2 separate regions of the Homo sapiens genome follow, and region 2 is linked to region 1. Evidence: fine-mapped expression QTL. A gene starts in region 1. The other region holds a variant in brackets. All regions are shown on one strand. Distances are from middle to middle. Region 1 holds the start of PRLR (prolactin receptor). Region 2 has its middle 140 kb from the start of SPEF2.

Evidence for each region.
Region 2: its variant is fine-mapped to the expression of PRLR in whole blood (TOPMed, PIP above 0.99).

What each region holds. Positions count from the first base shown.
Region 1 is chr5:35,225,572-35,235,691 of GRCh38, forward strand. It overlaps PRLR (prolactin receptor), which reads right to left and starts at 4,916. Exons shown (of 10, transcript NM_000949.7): 1 at 4,697-4,916.
Region 2 is chr5:35,472,024-35,482,143 of GRCh38, forward strand. No RefSeq gene overlaps it. Among named protein-coding and RNA genes, the nearest start is that of SPEF2, 140 kb to the right of the region's middle. The variant G/T (reference allele first, on the strand shown) is at 4,345.

The DNA.
Region 1 (10,120 bases):
CATTAAAGGAAAAAGGTTAAATTAATTTTAATATATTTTATTTAAACTAGTATACCTAAAATATTATCATTTCAACACACAATCAATATAAAAATTGAGACAGTTTACTTTTGTTTTTGTTTTTGTTTGAGACGGAGTCTCACTCTTTCACCCAGGCTGGAGTGCAATGGCGCAATCTTGGCTCACTGCAACCTCCGCCTCCCGGGTTCAAGAGACTTTCCTGCCTCAGCCTCCCAAGTAGCTGGGATTACAGGCACCCACCACCATGCCTGCCTAATTTTTGCATTTTTAATAGAGACGGGGTTTCACCGTGTTCCCCAGGCTGGTCTCGAATTCCTGAGCTCAGGCAATCCACCCGCCTCGGCCTCCTAAAGTGCTTGGATTACAGGCATGAGCCACCACACCTGGCCAAGACAGTTTACTTTTTGGGGGGAATACTAGGTCTTAAAAATCTGGGGTGCGTTGTACATTTACAGTACATCTCAATATGAAATAGCCACATTTCAAGTGCTCAATAGGCACATGTGGCTAGTGGCTACTGTATTGGACAGTTCAGTTGTAGGTGCACTAACTGGAATTTGGGACATCAAATACAAATCGTTGTCAGCATTCAGCTACTTAATTTACTTTTGATATTCTCCTTCTATCGGCTTCCTTACTTTCTCCAAAAGACATTATCTCAAAGCCCACATGCTGTGTTAGCAAGTAGTTGTGGGCTTTGGAGTGAAATAGACTAAGGGATTCAAATACCAGCTTCATAACCTTGGACTAGCTCCATAACCTTGGACTAGCTCCTTAACCTTGATGACTCTTGGTTTCTTCAACTGTAAAATAAAAACAAAAATAGCTAACTCACCAGATCATTGGGAAGATAAACAGAGTATACAGCACAGCTTAGAATAGTACAGTAGGCATTCAAATAATAATTCCCCCTATATACAAGTCAACTTCTAAAGGGCCCATCTTCAGACTTTAAGCTTTACTGCTTCATTTACTCCAATTTAAGAACTTTCTCTTGAGAGTTCTGCTAAGGTAGCCCTTTCCCTAGACTTTCACAGGGCTGGCTCCCTTTTTGAAAATGCGGGTTTAAGTTCAAGGGTATCCTTTGTATGGCAGTCTTCTCTGACTTCCCTGTTGAAAGTTGCTCCCACGCCCTGTCCCTCTGTAGCCTTCAGCCTCTATTTTCTTCATAGCATTTATCAGTATCTGAAATGATTTTATTTATGTATTTGTTCACCCGACTGTTTTCTGTCACTCTCTCTGGCATAGAAGCTCCACAAGGGCTGGGATCCTGTGTGTCTCATTCCCCACTGTGTCATCAAGTGCCCAGCACAAAACAGAGCTCAGCAAATGCTTGTCGAATAAATGAATGAAAACGTGCTCAGCACAGGGAGGTAAAGGTAAGTGGTGTTCTGATTCTAAAGGTGGTAGAGAATGAACATTCCAGAGCTCTGTTTAACTAAAAGGATTACCAAGGAAGTCAGTGACAGAGCGCCAGCCTCACCTGCTAATGTTGGATATTGCCAATCTTGAGTCTAATGGCTGGGCTTGGGAAGGGTCAGGAATATTATCCTCCCATAGGTGATCTTGTTGTTGCTACCCGTTAATATGTATCACAAGCCAAGCACATGTTCACACCACTTAAAAGCACCCACTAGATTTGGCTATTCCTGCCTTTTAGAAGAATCTTAATCCGGTTGGCTGATGCAAGTGCCTGATATTGGGGAGCTTGGGAGCACTGGGTAGTGGAAAAAGAGTGGGTGCCAAAGTCAGACAGACCTGGGCTTGGATCCTGGTTCTGCCTTTCCTGAGCTAGGCGGATGTGGGGTGTGGGGTTGGGGGGTGTATGTACATTTCCATGTTTCAGTTTCTTTACTGGTAAAGCTTTAAATGATAACTCATACTCTGCAATCTTGCTATGAGAATTAATTGAGGCAATGTGTGAAAGTGCTTAGCACATCTTAAAGGCTCAGTAAATAGTAGGCATGAATATTGCTATCTTTGCATGCAGGAATACCTCACCAAAGTATACTGATAGATCTTTGGCTACTCTGTGGATATCCAATTTCCTTTTAAGTTTCCGATGTTTCCTTCTTTCATTGCTACATCATCTGACCACTTGCAATGGAGGCACCAGGACCCCATGGAGAGAGAGTACATGCTGAGTTGGCTACATCTGTGCCAAACTGTGAAAGATGACAATGGAGATATTTCTCTCTACAGTTTCTGAAGATGGACCCAGCCACAACACTTCTTTCCATGCCTGGCTGTTTTTAGCTGCAGGCACAGCACTAGCTGTTTTGTACTCAAGATTATGGGTCAAAAGAGAACTGAGAGACAGGTCAAGTATCCACGCCGGTCTGGACATACTTTACTTGCCGGCAATACATAGTGCTCTCCTTGACACTGCACAATTCGAACAGCCAGTCTGACTCTGTATTCTGAGGCCACCACTCCTTTTTGTGCATAACTAGACCAGAACTAATTTTACTCATTCTTCTACTAATGTAAGCCCCATAGGAGAGAGAGAGTAAGCTGTTCTTAAAAGCATGAGACTATTGAACACTTATTTATGGTGCCACATTAATATTAAGAAAAAGTTTATCATTGACTATGGGCTAGGCATGATTCATAGTATTTCCATTCTCCCAACAACCATGCAAAAAAAAAAAAAAAAAAAAAGCAGCATTATTTTCATTGTGCTGACAGGAAAAGTGAAGCTCAGGAAAACTCAGAGGCTTGCTCAGTGTGGGAGTCAAGATCTGAAGCCCAGTCTGTTGAGCTCCAAAGCCCTGTGTGTTTTCTGATGTGCCTTGCTGGCACTGCTAGTGGAACACCCAGGGTCCCCAGAGATGTGAGTCCTTAGTCCTCTAAAGGCAAAGTACAGAGGTTCAAAAGAATATGGCTGCCTACTCATACTATGCCTCAGGGAGCAAAGACTGCTTCATTTCCAAACAAAGCCTTGGCCTCCCTGCCATCCAGCTAGGTGACCTGAAGAGCACTCTGATTCAGACAGCGATCCTCTTTAGATGGCTCTCCAGGGTTGGTGGGACTGAAAATTCTAGGGGTAAGGACTGTCGCCTTAGGAGAGTCATTAAAAAGGGTTGTGAGGAGGGGTCCCCTGGAGTCAGAGGCTGGTAGAGCTCTGGAGAGAGCATGTGGGGAGCTCACCCATGACAGGGGAGCTGTCTCCTTCAGCAGCGTGGCTGACTCCAGACCCCCAAGAAGGCTGTGGATTACTCCCACAGTCAGCCCAACCAGCAGCAAGGAGTTGGCTGGGTGGTCTTGATACAGGAGGAGGAATAAGGGATTGTCACCTGGGATTCAGGCATGGCTTTCAGGGAGTATCCACAAACCCTCAGGGATTGCATGTAAAATTTTATGTACATGCCATATGCATTTTGCCCCAGGAAGAGGACTCACAGCTAATTCTCAAAAGGACCTATCACCCCTAATTTTTAAGAACCACTGAAATTAATATTTTCATCTGCTCCTCTCTTGCACTATTCAGCACTTCCACCTCATTAAACATTTATATATATATTATATATATTTCTATAATATATATATATAATTAATTAATTCCCTAAACTTTGCAGAAAAAAAATCGAAGCCCAGAGAGGGTAAGTATCTTGCCCAAGTTTGCACAGCTGATGGTCAGGATTGGGATTAGCAGCACTTCCCTGGTCAAGTGAAGCACGATTTCAGGTGGGAAATCTTGCCCGGTCAACTTGACAAATGAAGACAAAGTGATCCCTCCAGACTAATAATAATGTTTTGCAACCATTTTCAAGTCCAGTCATAGAATCCCCTACGTTGCTTGTTTTCAGGGCAGTGTGGGTTGCTTCCCCAGGATACAGGTAGAGGTCACTAAAAGGATAGTTTTCTACTCAAAGAGCCAGAACTCCAGCCCTTGCCTTCCCCTGCCGTAGCACTCGGGCCGGCCCTCCAGTTACCTGAGTTTGCCTGACTTTAACCAACTCCTCTTCCCTTCCCTCCTCCCTTCTCCAGCGGGCTCTCCTTCCAGCTTCCTCCCGGGCTGCAATTCCTCTGCCTAGGTGCCTCCGTCCAGCTCCGGCTTCTGGCCCGGAGGCTGCTCATCTGCCCCTACCCCCGCTGACTTTTGGGAGGAGCAACACCTTTCAGGTCAGCATTGCTAACCCTAAACTTTCCCCGCCGGATGCCCGCGAGGCTGCTGCGGCGGCGGCTGCTGCTGATGGGAGAGTCTCGAGTCCGGCTTTCATCACATCACCTGTCTGCGCCCCTTCCCCCTCCCCGCTCTTTTTTTCTTTTCTTTTTATTTTGACGCAAATAATTTGCATTCTGAGAATCCCACAATCAACGCCGAAACTCATGCTCAAGGATACAGGTGAAGATGCCTTTGACAAAGGCGAATGCGAGCCGAGTGCAGTTTGTAAAAGCTGGGGTTGGGGGCAGTGGTGGAGGCAAAGCACCTTAAGAGTATTTTTTAGCCCCTCTGAGAAGGGACATCCGGGCGGGAGGCGGGCGGATCCCGGGCTTCCCCGCCGGCTGCCGACTCTGGCTCCTGGCTGGCGTTCTCTCCAGGAGCCCGCGCCGGTGGCCCCGCTCTCCCCTTCAGCACGCGGGCCTCGAACCCGCATCCCGGAGAGCGGCCGCCCGCGCAGCCCCTGCCGCGCGCCGTCGGAGGCGGCCTCAGCTCGCCATGGGTACTCACTTTTGCCAGGGAGCAAAGTCTGCCACATCAGTCGATGAGTACTTCCTGCACGAGGACATGAAGCTCCATTGTGTGGAAAGCTGTTTCGCGAACGGTCGGTAAAATCCAGAAAGAGGGAGAAGGAGTGAGTAAGGCAGAAAGCCCAGCCCAGAAAACCGGCGTCTGGGGATTTCAGCCTCCGCTCCCCGGTCCCCAGCCCGGTGGCTCTGTGAGAAGAAGCTCAACTCGGTGCACTTGTTCACTCTTTCTTCATGAGAGGAGGAGTCAGTGTTGCAACATTTATGTTCCTTGCTGGAGGCAAAACAGTGATTTTCTTCAGCATGCAAAACGTCCAGAGCCTGCCAGTTTTAGAAGGCGACGGAGGTAGTTGGGGGAGCTGGAATCCTGCGAAGACCTGAAGAAACAACTGATTCCCCCCAGATCGGTTTTGCATGATTAGGGCCACATATCTTTCATTGAGACTGTACCAGAAAATAGACAGACAAAACAATAATAAAAATGACTTAGTGAGTTGAATGACCTCAAAGATGATATTTTTCCAGGCAGCCAAGATGTGGAGTGTCTCCGTGTCAAATTTCTTTCCTTATTTCTGAGTAACATTGAACAGCAGCTATATTTGAGAGGTTCTCCAGGGATTTGAATTGCACCTTGCCTGAGGAGTCAGATAGAAAGGAGCAAAAGAAGATAGTCAGTGACCTAAGAAGGTTTTGCTTTTTTTTTTTTTTAATACCCAAAGCGCAAACTTCTAGTGTGCTGTGTTTATTCTCTGCCATATGAATATAATAAACATTGGCGGTGCCTAAATAGCCCCACTTCTGTTGTTTTCCACAAATAAAGAATTTATCTTTTCTAATGGGCTGCATGTTGTTCTGACTTTTCTTCTTCTTGAAACCACACACAACCGCCTTTTCTCTTGCAAAAACAAAAACCCCACATTTAACAGTGCTGAAACAAATAATAGCACCTGCCTGAATCAAATAGTTATTTCTGACTATGTATGTTGCTGGTGTCATTTGATGCCATAATAATTAATGCATCCGATTGTTACACAACCCAGAGGGCCACCAAGGAAATACTTTAAACCAAGGTTACTGAGTTTTTTTTTTTGTTTGTTTTTGTTTGTTTTTTTGAGACAGAGTCTCGCTCTGTCGCTCAGGCTGGATTGCAGTGACCCCATCTCGGCTCACTGGAACCTCTGCCTCCTGGATTCAAGCAATTGTCCTGCTTCAGCCTCCCGAGTAGGTGGGACTACAGGCGCGTGCCACCATGTCCGGCTAGTTTTTTGTATTTTTAGTAGAGATGAGGTTTCACCCTGTTAGCCAGGATGGTCTTGATTTCCTGACCTCATGATCCACCCACCTTGGCCTCCTGAAGTGCTGGGATTACAGGCGTGAGCCACTGCGCCTGGCCGTTTTTTTTTTTGTTTTGTTTTAAGTTATTGAAACATGAGGCTTTCCCCTTTGATTTGACTGCTACTCTGGATAACTGGGAAATCACAGTTAGCAGTGAGCATTTGCCAAGCCACAGGAAGCCATTGAAAATCCCATGATGCTTTGGTGATCCTTTTGGACTGGAATCCCAGAAGCAACTACCTAGGCATAATAACCTAATACTTCCTGATCAATAACACGTCCTTATTAAAACATAGACTCCACCTGGTTCTGTTAGCTGATGGGAGATGCATCTTTCACGTGCAGACCGCACATGCTTCCTGTGATGATTAGGGTATATTTACTTTCATTCATGGGTGTCCATGAAGGTACGCAACTTCTATTTATTTTCAGAACCACTGGGCGACATGAGATCCTCAGTGGCAGAATATTTCTATATGACCTTTGCAAAGCAAAGGGTCACTCAATTCTACAATAGTTGTTCTAATCAGACTATTTTAACAGTTAGTGAAATAGAAGATCACTCTGGGTAACTCCAGACTGTCAGCTCTTAGAAGGCAGGGACTTGGCTTTTCCTCCTTGTGGTTCCCACTCAGCTGCAGGCAGCTTGGCTCGTCTGTACTCCTGGCTTACAGACTGGTCGTTGCGTGGCTAATCCATACCTCACTGGTAAGAAGGGCAGGGCTGGCTTTCTGCTCTGTTGTGTAGCACACAGGCACTGTCACAAAGCCACGGGTACTCATTGTCAGTGAGTTACCTTGCCCCAGCTTTCCTGAGATGATGAAATCCGCAGTGAGCCACTATATTTTCCTTTTCTGCCCCACAGTGGTTCTTTGACTATCTCCTTCTCTCTATGCACTGATGTGCTCCAGCTTCACAGCTTCTTTACTGATGTCCTCCTCTAGTTCATTTCTGCATCTCTGTCTTAGCGGACGTGTTCGTCCTTTGCAAGCTGACTCCCTACCTGAGTCCTGGACTCCATATCCGTTTACTTCCTCCAAGACCTTGCTTCTCAGCCTGATGCAGAGGAAGAGCCCAGCACTGGCACTGGGTTAGGTCCTTGCTATTCTTGGTTTCTCACTGTAAATTGGACACAGTAGCATGTGCCTCAAAAATCCAGTCAAATGAATAATAATGGTGATGGCATATGTAAAATGTGTGCCATCTAACAAAGTCTAGAAACATCAAGTTCCTTTCTTTCCTTCCCCTTTCCTCTACCTTTCTTGCATATTTAATCTTTTCTGCCCCATAGGCTTCTTTATCTCAACCTACAACTTCTACATCTTCTTTGACCCTTTTGATGGCTTTACAGTTTAATTCACTCATTTCTTTACCTGCCAATCTTAGTGAAAGAATGACTTACGCACACCAGCTTTCCTTACTTACTTCCCTCTCAGTGCCTTAACTCACTGGTTCTCAACCTTGGCTGTGAACAAGAATCACCTGAGTGTTTAAAATGTACTGTGTCTGGGTGTCACTTGCAGAGCTTCTAATGCAGGAGGTTTAGAATGGGGCTCTGACTTCTCTGTTTTTACAAAAATGCACAGGCAGGGTGGAAAATGGCTCCCTTGAATTCTTTGCACCTGGCTTTCATCACTACCACTCACTGGCTGCTCTCTGGGAGGGCCCTCCAGGCCTCTCTGCAGCACTGGGCTTCGGTTCACTTCCTCCTCTTGAAGTTCTCACGCCTTGGCTTCCAGGCCTCTGCCATCCTCTGGCGGGAGCCTCCCCTCTGTCTGTGGCATTCCTCTGTTGGTTTCTGCCGTGGCTCCTTTTCTCTCTCCTCCTTCTCAAATAGGGAAGGAGTTTTATCATTGCTACTTCATTTGTCTTCTTTGAGAACCACATTTCTTTTTTTTTTTTTTTTTTTTTGGTTTTAAGGAGTGGAGAGGTTAATAGGCAAGAAGGGTCAAGAAGGAAAGGGAGAAGGAAGAAAGAAGAAGCTTCCCTGTACAGAGACAGAGGGAGGGGGGCGCTCCAAAGCCAAAAGAGTAAGTCCCCACTTGCTGCGGATACCAGCCAGGTATATAAGCAGAGGCTGGAGGAGGCGGTGTTTGATTTGCCTAGGGCTCAGGGGATTGGTTTGACTAGGCACGTAATTCACGTAGCCCATGAAAGAGCTGGCCCTCCCACTCTAGCCTTTTAATATGCAAATGCGGGGCGCCATGATGTTCTACACAAATAGGGATATGTGGGGGCGGCCATGTTGCCAGGAACATGTGGGGCAAGGGCAAGAAGGTCCCTGGAATCGGCATGTTTGGGTGAACCCAGTTTCTAATGGCCTAGGTTTGCATATCAAAGGTTGCCCGCCTGGCTCTAAAAGCCGGGGTTTTACAAGAAACTTTTCTGGAGATACTTTAAAAAATGAAAACTTCCCAAGGACCCCTTTTACTCTCTATCTGCCTAAAATAATTTCTTGATAACTCATGCCACATTCCTCCCTGTGGCGATATCACACTAACTGCTGTTAGGGGGTTTTGGGCAAGGACTCTTTCTGGCTACTTCCTGCTGAAAAGGGGCCTCTAATGGGGAACAGCAGCTAGGGCTCCTCCTGGGGTCAACTTAAGCATCCTCAGAAGAATGGCATGTCCATATGTGGGAGAACTATGTTTCTTTCTTTAGAAAAAAAATAGAAAACTGCTAAAAATATCCAAAGATTAAAAAACTACCCCAAATCCTAGCACTGTTAAAAAGAAATCTACATCTTTATCTATACAGTAAAATATAGTACTTCCAAATCACACATCCTCCTTCCTTCATCTAATCCTGTCTCAGAGGTAACCACCATTGACGTATTGGTGGTTGCCTCCTTTTTTACATGTGTATATAGTCATGTCTCTGTATGCACATGCAAATATTTTAAAAATTCAAAATGCAATAATTTCTGTGACTTTTCTTTTTTAAACTTAATGAAATCACATATTCCAGGTAACTATGTATAGATTTACTCCATTTTTTTTTAATGGTTACATAGTTTGTAATATATTCTACCATTCTTCCATTGTTAGGTCTTTAGTAATTCCAGCTTTTTATTTTAAGAAGTGCTGCTAGGATTGTCTTTGCATGGACTTTAGGATAGATACTTAGAATGGCCTGATTGGCAGGCAGGTTGGCTCGCGTCTGCCTGTAATCCCAACACTTTGGAAGGCCAAGGCAGGCAGATCACCTGAGGTCAGGAGTTCCACACCAGCTTGCCCAACATGGTGAAACCCTCTCTCTACTAAAAATACAAAAATTAGCCAGGAGTGGTGGTGCACGCCTGTAGTCCCAGCTGCTAGGGAGGCTGAGGCCAGAGGATCGCTTGAACCTGGGAGGCAGAGGTTGCAGGGAGCCGAGATAGTGCCATGGCACTCCAGCATGGGCAACAGATTGAGACTGTGTCTCAAAAAAATAAATAGATAAATAAATAAATAAATAAAATAAAAAATAAATGACTTGGTTGGCTCAAAGAGAATGAACATTAAAATTTTGATAGCTACCAAATTGCTCTCCAAATATGTTGTTGGAGAAAGCCCTAGAAATGAGATTACTGAGCCACAGGGTAGGAACATTTTAAATTTTCATATATACCTCCAATTTTTATCCACAAATGTTTCAGTGTCCACTCTTACCAAGGATGTTTACTCACATTTTTGCTAGCACTGGACTTTATCAATCTTATCTTGCTAGTCTGATAAGCAAAATATGATAGCTCATTGTTGTTCTAATTCACAGTGTTCTGATTGCCTTCAAGGTTGAGTTCATGTGCTTATTATATTTTGACTTTTTCTCTTATGTTGTGGCTGTTCAATCTTATGCCTGTTTTTCTTTTGAGATGGAGTCTTGCACTGTCACCTGGGCTGGAGTGCAGTGGCATGATCTCGGTTCACTGCAATCTCCACTTTCCAGGTTCAAGCAATTTTCCTGCCTCAGCCTCCTGAGCAGCTGGGATTACAGGTGCCCACCACCACGACCAGCATTTCTTTCTGTTTTTAATAGAGACAGGGTTTCACATGTTGGCCTGGCTGGTCTTGAACTCCTGACCTCCTGATTC
Region 2 (10,120 bases), 250 kb after region 1:
CATCCGGTAGTCCTCACTGAGTGTCTACTCTTGCCAGGCTGCCTGCTAGGCACTGGGGATATGAGGGAAACTAGACCAACAGTGTTCCTGCTTAGCCCTCATGAGCTATGTGTTCTCCAGGCCAACCATGACAGACTCCAGTCACGAGTCCTTCTTCAAACATCGCCCCTTAGACTTCTCTTCCTTAAGCAGAACATTATCAGTTCTAAGAACATTTCTGTTGTTACTAAGGGAATGCTGGAGTTAAAGTAGTTTTCTGTACCCTGAAGGCACTCACAGAATATGCACAATCTGTGGGAGAAATTAATAGAAATTAATAAACACAATCTGTGGGAGAAATTAATAGAAATTAATATGCACAATCTGTGGGAGAAATTAATAGAAATTAATATGCACAATCTGTGGGAGAAATTAAATCTATGATTACATGAATAGCCAGATCTTCATCCTGAGGATGTCCGAAGTTAAGGGTAGGGATTTTTTAAAGTGTTCTATGGAACAATTTGCCTGGTTTAGGAAGTCCCCCTACACATTGTTTTATCATTTTCATAAGGTGGAAATTTCACACATTCATCACTTGAGTTTTTATTTTCTTTAAAATGTAATCTTTATGATAGAATTGAGTTATATAGTACAATAAAAATGACAGTGAAACATCAGTCTGTGGTCTGTCCTCTGACATCAGTCAAGTTCACGTTCATCTCTCCATTTGTCTTATAGGACTTCATTCAGTACATTACTGTGAAGCACCAGTGGAGACGTGGAAATAGGATATAAGAGACTGTGAGAAGGATGATTATAATGTTCTAGAAATAGTTCAAGTCCCTAGGTCACTTCTGAGGCCCTTATTGTTCTGCCCAGTCTTTACCCTTTGACCTTATCTCCACCTTTGACCTTAACTCTTGCCCTTGCCCACAGATACCCTTCACTCCAGCTGTGCAGAATTCGTTGCACTTCTTCAGGTGGGGCATGTTGTTGTTGTTGTTGTTGTTGAGATGGAGTCTCGCTCTGTCACCCAGGCTGGAGTGCAAAGGCACAATCTCAGCTCACTGCAACCTCCGCCTCCCGGGTTGAAGCAATTCTCCTGCCTCAGCCTCCCGAGTCGCTGGGATTACAGGCAAGTGCCACCACACCAAGCTAATTTTTTAAAAAATTTTTAGTAGAGACAGAGTTTCATTGTGTTAGCCAGGATGGTCTCAATCTCCTGACCTCGTGATCCTCCTGCCTTGGCCTCCCAAAGTGTTGGGATTACAGGCATGAGCCACGGCACCCACCTGGGACATGTTTTATCCCTCCAAACTTTGTTCAGCTGCTCCCTCTTGCCTCAAGGCCCAGCCCTTCACCTAACCTATTTCTAAGTTATCCTTCTACACTCAGCTCAAGTCTTCACTGACCCCAAGTACAATCTAGATACTTCTTTTCTATGTCCCCTTAGCAGCCCATGTTTAATTCTATTTTAGCAATTCTCATGCTGCCTTACAGACCCACTCCACTATTCAGTGAGATTCCTGACATGAAGGACCTCATGCTGATCATTTCTTTCTTTTGTTTTTTTTTTTTTTTGAATATTTGAGGTAAAAATTGTATTACATGTGTAGTAAGTGTTCATAGTAATTTAGGTCTCATAAAACCCTGCCTCCCCCTACGGTATCCTCTTACTCAGATGATAAAACTTGAATGCAACTCCGTGTTCTGTCACAGACAATTGAAATCTGAGGATTCAAAAGAACACCCTTGCCTATTTCTGAGCAAGCACAGTCACTGCCTGTTCATTTCTGTATTTCCAGTTCCTGCTTCATAACAGATGCTCAACAGATGTTTATTGATTATGAAAAGGATCCCTGAAAAGCTTTCTCCTGGAATTAGACTCTCAGCCCTAGAATAGAGCAAGCCTGCAGAAACGAGAACTGGAGGCTTGAAAGTCCTCCATAACTGGGTTGAAGAGAAACCATTTTCCTGTAATCTTTTTTTTTTTTTTTTTTTGAGATGGAGTCTTGCTCTGCCGCACAGGCTGGAGTGCCATGGCCTGATCTTGGCTCACTGCAAGCTCCACCTCCTGGGTTCACGCCATTCTCCTGCCTCAGCCTCCTGAGTAGCTGGGACCACAGGTGCCCACCACAACGCCCTGCTAATTTTTTGTATTTTTAGTAGAGACAGGATTTCACCGCGTTAGCCAGGATGGTCTCGATCTCCTGACCTCGTGATCCGCCCGCCTCGGTCTCCCAAAGTGCTGGGATTACAGGTGTGAGCCACCGCACCTGGCCCTTTTCCTGTAATCTTAACATCAGAAAGCACAACTGTTCCCTCTTAGAACTCCTAGGCATTCTATTCCAGGCATTCATCTCTTCCTGCCTTCTAACATGCAAATGTATGCATGAGCCCTCATGGTCCTCAGGTTGAAATGTCCTTAGGTTGACTATCAGTGTGTTGCACACACCCAGGACAGGGATTGTCCCTAAGAAATATTCCCCAGGTTTCTATAACTTCACAACAAACTCAAGCACATTACCTGATTATATCCCTTTATTCCTTCTTTTCCTTACCCATTGTGCACCTATCTTACCACTCTATTCTGCTTTTTACTAAATGCTAGTTTTGATCATCTTCTCATTTTAGAATAGTTTTAGATTTTCAGAAAAGTTATGAAGGTAATGCAGAGGGTCCTCATATACCCCACATCCAGCTTCCCCTATTATTAACATTTCACATTAAAATGGTATATTTGTCACAAGCAACGAACCAATATTGATATAGTATTATAAACTAAGTCCCATACTTTATTCAGGTTTGCTTAGGAGGGGTGCGTGTGTGCGTGTGTGTATGTGTACTCTTTTTTCTGTTCCAGGATCCCATATAGGATACCATATTACGTTTTGGCTCCTCTTGGATGTGACAGTTTCTTAGACTCTTTTGTTTGTTTGTTTTGGATGACTTGAAATTTTAAGGAGTATGGACCAGGTATTTTGTAGAATTTGTCTGTTGTTTTCTCAGGAGTGGGGTTTCGGCAGAGGAAGACCATAGAGGTAAAATGTAATTCTCATTGCATCATATCAAAGATGTATACTATCAATACGACTTATCACTGATGATGTTAGCCATGGCCACCTGGCCGTGGTATGGTTGTCGGGCTTCTCCACTGTAAAGGTACTCCCCCACTCCTCTCCATAATACCTTTTTTTTTTTTTTTTTTTTTTTGAGACGGAGTTTCACTCTTGTTGCCCAGGCTGGAGTGCAATGGCATAATCTCGGCTCACCGCAACCTCCGCCTCCCGGGTTCAAGCAATTCTCCTGCCTCAGCCTCCCTAGTAGCTGGGATTATAGGCATGTGCCACCATGCCTGGCTAATTTTGTATTTTTAGTAGAGACAGGATTTCTCCATGTTGGTCAGGTTGGTCTCAAACTCCTGACCTCAGTTGATCCGCCTGCCTCGGCCTCCCAAAGTGCTGGGATTACAGGCATGAGCCACCGCGCCTGGCTACCATAATGCACTCTTGAGAAGGGAGTTACTATATGCAGCACACACTTATGGAGTGGAGAGTTATGATCCACTTCCTTGAGAGTAGAATACATAAATTATTTGGGATTCATATTCATGTAAGTACAGATTCATGAATATTTATTTTACATTTTGGTTTATAATCCAATACTACTTTATGTATTTTGTTTGCTCAAGTTGTTTCAAATTTGACCATTGGGAGCTCTTTCCATTGGTTCCCATTCCCCCTTTGACATGTTCCTATCAATGGGTTTCGGTTTTTGTTGAGCATGTCCTCACTTTCAGGTACTAAGAGATGTTCCAGGTTCATATGGTATATTTCCTATCCCGGTCCTGGATCAGCCATTTCTCTAAGGATCCTTGTTTTTCAGTTTATTTGTTTCCATTTCTGGGAATGGCATTAGAAACCAAGATGTGGGTATTATAGATGCAATCTCTGTTTTTAATAGTTAAAACTTCTGTAACAGTTGTTAATTTTTCACAGACTACTTTTTCCCCCAATTTTAAAAGGGAACTTTGCCTTTTCTGGGCCAAACTCCCACTCAGTTTCATGTAGAACCTGGAAGGATGGGTGGTCCCCACTTAGTAGACTTCTGGCCACATCTATTTTTGGTTAGGATGTGCTGTTGCAATTCAGAGATTTCAATTCTAATTACATGGATAGTTTCTAACATATGTGGATGTTGGGTAATATGAGGCCAACTGTTATTAACGTTTCTGTGTTCTGTCTTTTTGATCGTTCTAAAAGTAGGAAGTTACCATTTTGTAATCAGAGGGAGTCATATTTGTAGAATTCTAAGCCCTTTATCTTCTGAAGCACTAATGTCTTTTTCTATTAATCTCTTTTG[G/T]CTTCTGTGGTCCTGACCCTGGCAATTAATTTCACTGCAGATGCATGAGCCAGGTACACACAGACACAAACTGTAGTATCAACTATATAGAGAAAGATGTTAGCCTGAGAGCTGTGCAGCTACCTGAAAATCAGAGGTGAAATGAAGGAGAACAGTCTACATTTTAAAATCCCTAACAATTGTTTATACCAACTTACTGTTTCAGAGATACCCCTGGTTTAAAACTGTTTTGGATAATCATTTAGAAGAGGTTTTCTCTTTCCAGTTCATACAAGCTGTAATACATCATGCAAACGCTATTCCCAAAGTGATTATAAGCATGTTTTACATCAAATCTGTAAGTTTTTCTGTAATAAAGATTTTCTTAGGCTACTGCTGAGGGCTTTTTGAATTCCTAGCTTGGGCTGTTTGCAAAGCTTATTCCAACACTGTCTCAGAGCACTGTTGAGGTCATACCTTCAGGGTAATTTAAATGGAACGAATAGGAAGGTCATAATCTGAATCCAATCAACAGTCTGGTGGGAGGCCAGTGACTGTTCTGAAACATGGCATTGAGAGCCCAGATAAAATGTGTTGATTTCTGGTCTGCTTTCTGTTATACCCCAGCCCTGTAAACACCAGGCAAATAAACCTCAAGCACAACAAACTTGAGGCAAAACAGACAAAATTAATTTTATATGGCTATTTATTTAAAGGCAATTCTGTGTGCAAGAGATCTGTCTAAACATGCTTAAGGAAGTAAATCACATTTGTGGGGCATCTTGACCTCCCTTTCTAGCTGGAGACAGTTTCATAGGAACTAGCCTTTTAGTACTTGGTGATGTGTTTTTTAAGGAAAAAACCAAGTTTAAGGGTTGACTGTGTCTTTTAATAGAACATAAATATTTTGTCAGTTTTTATTATTTTCAAAAGGAGGGAGATCACATTTTCAAGCAAGGGAGTTTTGTTTGTCTTCAATCTGATTTTTAATATGCTTAGATAGGGACATTTCTAGGTGACTAAAAGGAAAAGAAGAAATCTATGCCAGGCTTAAGAAGTATATCAATATATATTGATACATATTTGTTTTGGAAGCTATAGGGCCTTGGACAAAATTACTGTAAAGTTTCTATAATTATGAAGTCATTTTATCTATTTGCATCCTAACAAAGGTATACTGTCATCAAAAGCTCAGTGGACATATAAGTGGATGAAAACAAAGTCATTGTGGCAAGCACAGTTTGTGAGAGATGCTGTCATGCTGTAGAAGAAACATTACCCTTAGATTGAAAAGTTTTCTGTCCTTATCCATCCATGTTCTTGCTTTTTGGCCTTAGCTCACCACTTCACCTCTTTCAATCTGTTTCCTTCTTTGTAAAATAAAAGCTTGTCTCCTAAGAGCTCTAAAAAGTCTATCATATGTGTTACGGTTGTTGAGAAACAACCTAAACATGTTATTGAATGAGTCCAGCTGCTCACCTAAGTGTAGTCCCACAGAGTCTTAATGCTCAAGTTTGAAGTCAAGAAACTCTGTTTCTGTTTTCTGTTTTGACACCATAATTAGAGAGGTTGATGGAGCTGGGGGCTCAACCAATACTCTCCAGGCTCAATAGAGAAAAAAGGATAAACCACATGCCAGCATATGAATTCACAGTGAGAAAAATAAACACTAAGGGCACTGGGATGCAAAGATGTTCTGGCCAGTGCACTCTCTTAGTATTGAAATCTCAGGGGAACTCCAGATTACAGTAAGAAAACTGAGCAATGATTATGGACCTTGAGCCAAGTCTTGAGATAGTCTTCAGAAGACTTCCTCCAGTTCATGATGAAGCCTGGTGGCTCCTCTCTAACTCAGAGACAAAAGGCTTTCTCTTTTTATCAGACATTTATTTTTTCTCTCTCTATTTCTCTCCTGGACAGTCAATGCTTAGTGACAATAACAGGATTTTTTGTTTGTTTGTTTTAGACAACATAAAGTCTAAAACTAGAGAGAAGGCATAAATAGACCTGTTCACAGGCTTTTCTCAGCCCTACTACAATGTCATTGAGTAGGTTTCAATGTTTTGATTACTAACATATTCTAGTCTTGCCCACCTGAATTGCTCCTCACTTGCTTTGGATGGCTGACCTTGAGTGTTCCCCTCTCCTCAGTTCAAACATTTATAGACAAGTTCCTTTGTTACTTCACCAGATGGCGTCCCATATATCATATACGGGATTTATTAATACTAGTTTAAGAAGATAGCCTTATTCAAAATCCTTGTGGAAACCTATTGACTTGATAATCAAGTTGGAAAAATATCCATAAGGACTCACTGATTGGGATTGATAAAAGAAAAATGTCAATGAGAGACAGACCAGATTCTCTGAGGTGACAGTTATCATACTTTAGTCCTGGGGTCCATGTTAAAAATGCAGGTTCCCCTGTCAGCCACTGAGATTCTAGTTCAGTAAAAATTTTGTATTCCCAGATGATTTTATATTAGTGGCTGACAAAATCCCTTTCTTCTAAGATTTCTTATTTGCAAAATCAGCTTGGATTTTGATTCATTTCTTTAGGAAACAATTTCATGTTTTAGGAAAAAAAAAAGCCTCCAAATAGAGGCAGGCTTAAGTTCATGGCTTAGAAGTACCTTAGCACCAAAAGCTCAAGTACTGAGTGGTCCCTGCCAAAGTTTTAGAAAGAGCCATACAGAGGTACAACCCACTTCATAGCCATACTTGATGGCTACTGTCAGCTTTATACAATCTCTGCGTGTTTAAATCTATTCTATTAAAATTAAATTTGAGGAGAAAGGACTCTCCACCACCCTCCTTTCAGTTCTATTCTTTCTTTCCTATTCATCACTCCTTTCTTTCCTATTCATTACTGTATCCTTAACGCTCAGCAAAGTGAGTAGCATATGGTAATGATTCAAATATTTGTTGAATGAACAAGGGAAAAGTGAAAATGAAAATGAAACTACACAGATACTATGCAACCAGGAAGCTGAATTCCTTCACCAACACCAGCAAGTTCAACCAATGCTCTACACAAAGGAAACTTTTATTCTCCTCTCACATTCTGTCCTTCTGTCAAGACTCAGAATGTCTTGTTTGTGCCGATCTCATAGGGTATATTATCGAGGCTAGAGCGGGGAGGGAAGTTCTATGCAGAGAACAGGGACTTTGGGGAAAGAATCTGGGAATTTCAGAAGTAAAAGCTTCTCTGTGAAAGATCAGGCAGTTGTCCCTGAACAATGAATGTACACAGGGCTGATTACAAAAGTGACACTTAAGAAAAAAAAAAAAAGACTCTCTTAACAGTGTGGTGACAAATCCTCAAAATAAGAGCTTTGTTTATTTAAGGGCCTGGGAAACACTGAAAATATTGAGTTTTTAGCTAATGATGAACTGCAAATGCAAAGCATTGTGAATTACTCTACTGTCAATCTTAGGTTAATTTTATACTGCTGCAGTACTTGCTAAGTTAACTAGAGCAGTGGTTATTAATCTACCTGCACATTAAAAATCTCTGAAATGCTTTCAGCAATTCTGGTAATCAGATCATACTTCAGACCAATTAAAACCCACTATCCAGTCAGTGAGATTCAGACATTTGTATTTATTAAAGCTCCCAGATAACTCTAATGTGTAGCTGGTAATGAGAATCACAGTTCTATAGGCAAAGGCCTAATTCAGATATCTTCCTAGATTAAATGGGAGTAAGCTATATGTCCAAAGAAGACACGATTATTAGAATGAATGGCCCTTGGAAGGTTTACGCTGGCCTTGCTCTTGGCTATTTCAGATTCTTCCACCATGCCAACAAGGCCTACTTTCCTTTAAATGTTTCTTTCTATGTTTCAAAGCAAATTCAAATACTTTCTTTGCACTCTTCATGAGACAGTTTTCCAAAAATACATTCCTCTTGTTTACTTAAATGGTTCCTTTAATTTCACCTTCACTATAGAATCTACTAGAAAATCTGGAGGAGGGATGGTTATGTTTCTTTTTTTTTTTTTTAACTTTAAAGCAAAGAATTTTAATTTGAAAGTTGAGAAAATATAGCAGAGAAAACTAGTCATTTGGAATGTTATGAGAGAATTTGAAAAAAATATTATAAATGTTTTAAGATAGATGTGGTTGAACATTTAGAATTGGGAATCATTTTCTGATAGTTTGGGACCTAGTTTTCTGTGCTTAAATTTTAATTCAGTACTACTTACTCCATGGTCTTCTGGTGGTGTGCAACTTGAGGAATCAAATAAGCCAAGGTTTTTACAACCCTTCTCTAGGTCATTAAAGCATTTCTGCTATGTGCCTCAATATGTCTTTGATTTCATGCATAAGAAATATTAGATGCTCCATTCTCCTTCTTTAGAAGAAATAGTAACTGAATATGTTGGATTCTTCTCTATTTTTGTTGTTTCTCTTAGATTTTTAACCACACTTGCTCAAGACTAAGTTTTGTATTTTAAGTTTAAATGAGTAAAGTAAAAGGCTGGGAGCGGAGTGTGTGGTGATGCTGCTTCTTTTTCCCTTGAGAACTGAAGGCAAAAAAATTAAATTTATTATAAAAATTTGTTTTTGTCTTTTTTAATGTTTGTTTCCTTTTTCTTTCTTTTTTTTATGCTTTAAGTTTTAGGGTACTTGTGCACAATGTGCAGGTTAGTTACATATGTATACATGTGCCATGTTGGTGTGCTGCACCCATTAACTCGTCATTTAGCATTAGGTATATCTCCTAATGCTATCCCTCCCCCCTCCCCCCACCCCACAACAGGCCCCAGAGTGTGATGTTCCCCTTCCTGTGTCCATATGTTCTCATTATTCAATTCCCACCTATGAGTAAGAACATGCGGTGTTTGGTTTTTTGTCCTTGCGACAGTTTGCTGAGAATGATGGTTTCCAGCTTCATCCATGTCCCTACAAAGGACATGAACTCATTATTTTTTATGGCTGCATAGTATTCCATGGTGTATATGTGCCACATTTTCTTAACCCAGTCTATCATTGTTGGACATTTGGGTTGGTTCCAAGTCTTTGCTATTGTGAATAGTGCCGCAATAAACATACATGTGCATGTGTCTTTATAGCAGCATGATTTATAATCCTTTTGTTTCTTGTGCAGGAAAGACACTACATTTATCTTTCTCCTTGTTTCAATACTGTGAGCATATACATGTTAAAAGAGCTTTCTGTGTTTCTCATCACAATGTCCTTTCCTCAAAGCATGAGACTAAACCTGGTTTCCTGGAAATCTTGTGGGGTGCAGATTCTTGGATTGCACTCCAGGATGACTGAATCAGAGTTTTTAGGGGTTGGGCCTGGAAATTAGCAACATTGTGGTGGCTCATGCCTGTAATCCCATCACTTTGGGAGGCTGAGGCAGGTGGATTACCTGAGGTCGGGAGTTTAAGACCAGCCTGGCCAACATGGTGAAACCCCGTCCTTACTAATAATACAAAAATGAGCCAGGCATGGTGGCCCACACCTGTAATCCCAGCTACTCAAGAAGCTGAGGCAGGAGAATCGCTTGAACCCAGGAGGCAGAGGTTGTAGTGATCATGCCATTGCACTCCAGCCTGGGTGGCAGAGAGAGACTCCATCTCAAAAAAAAAAAAAAAAAAGAAGAAGAGGAAGAAGAAGAAGAAGAAAGAAATTAGCAACACTTACAAGCATTTCAGGTGGTATTATATTTTCCTGAGTACATTCAACTGGGAGAACTACTAAATGTAAACTTTCTCACAGTGAACTGCCACCTTTGTTACAGCCTCCAGGAGTCTAGGAGCAATGTCTGTTTCTATGTTTTATA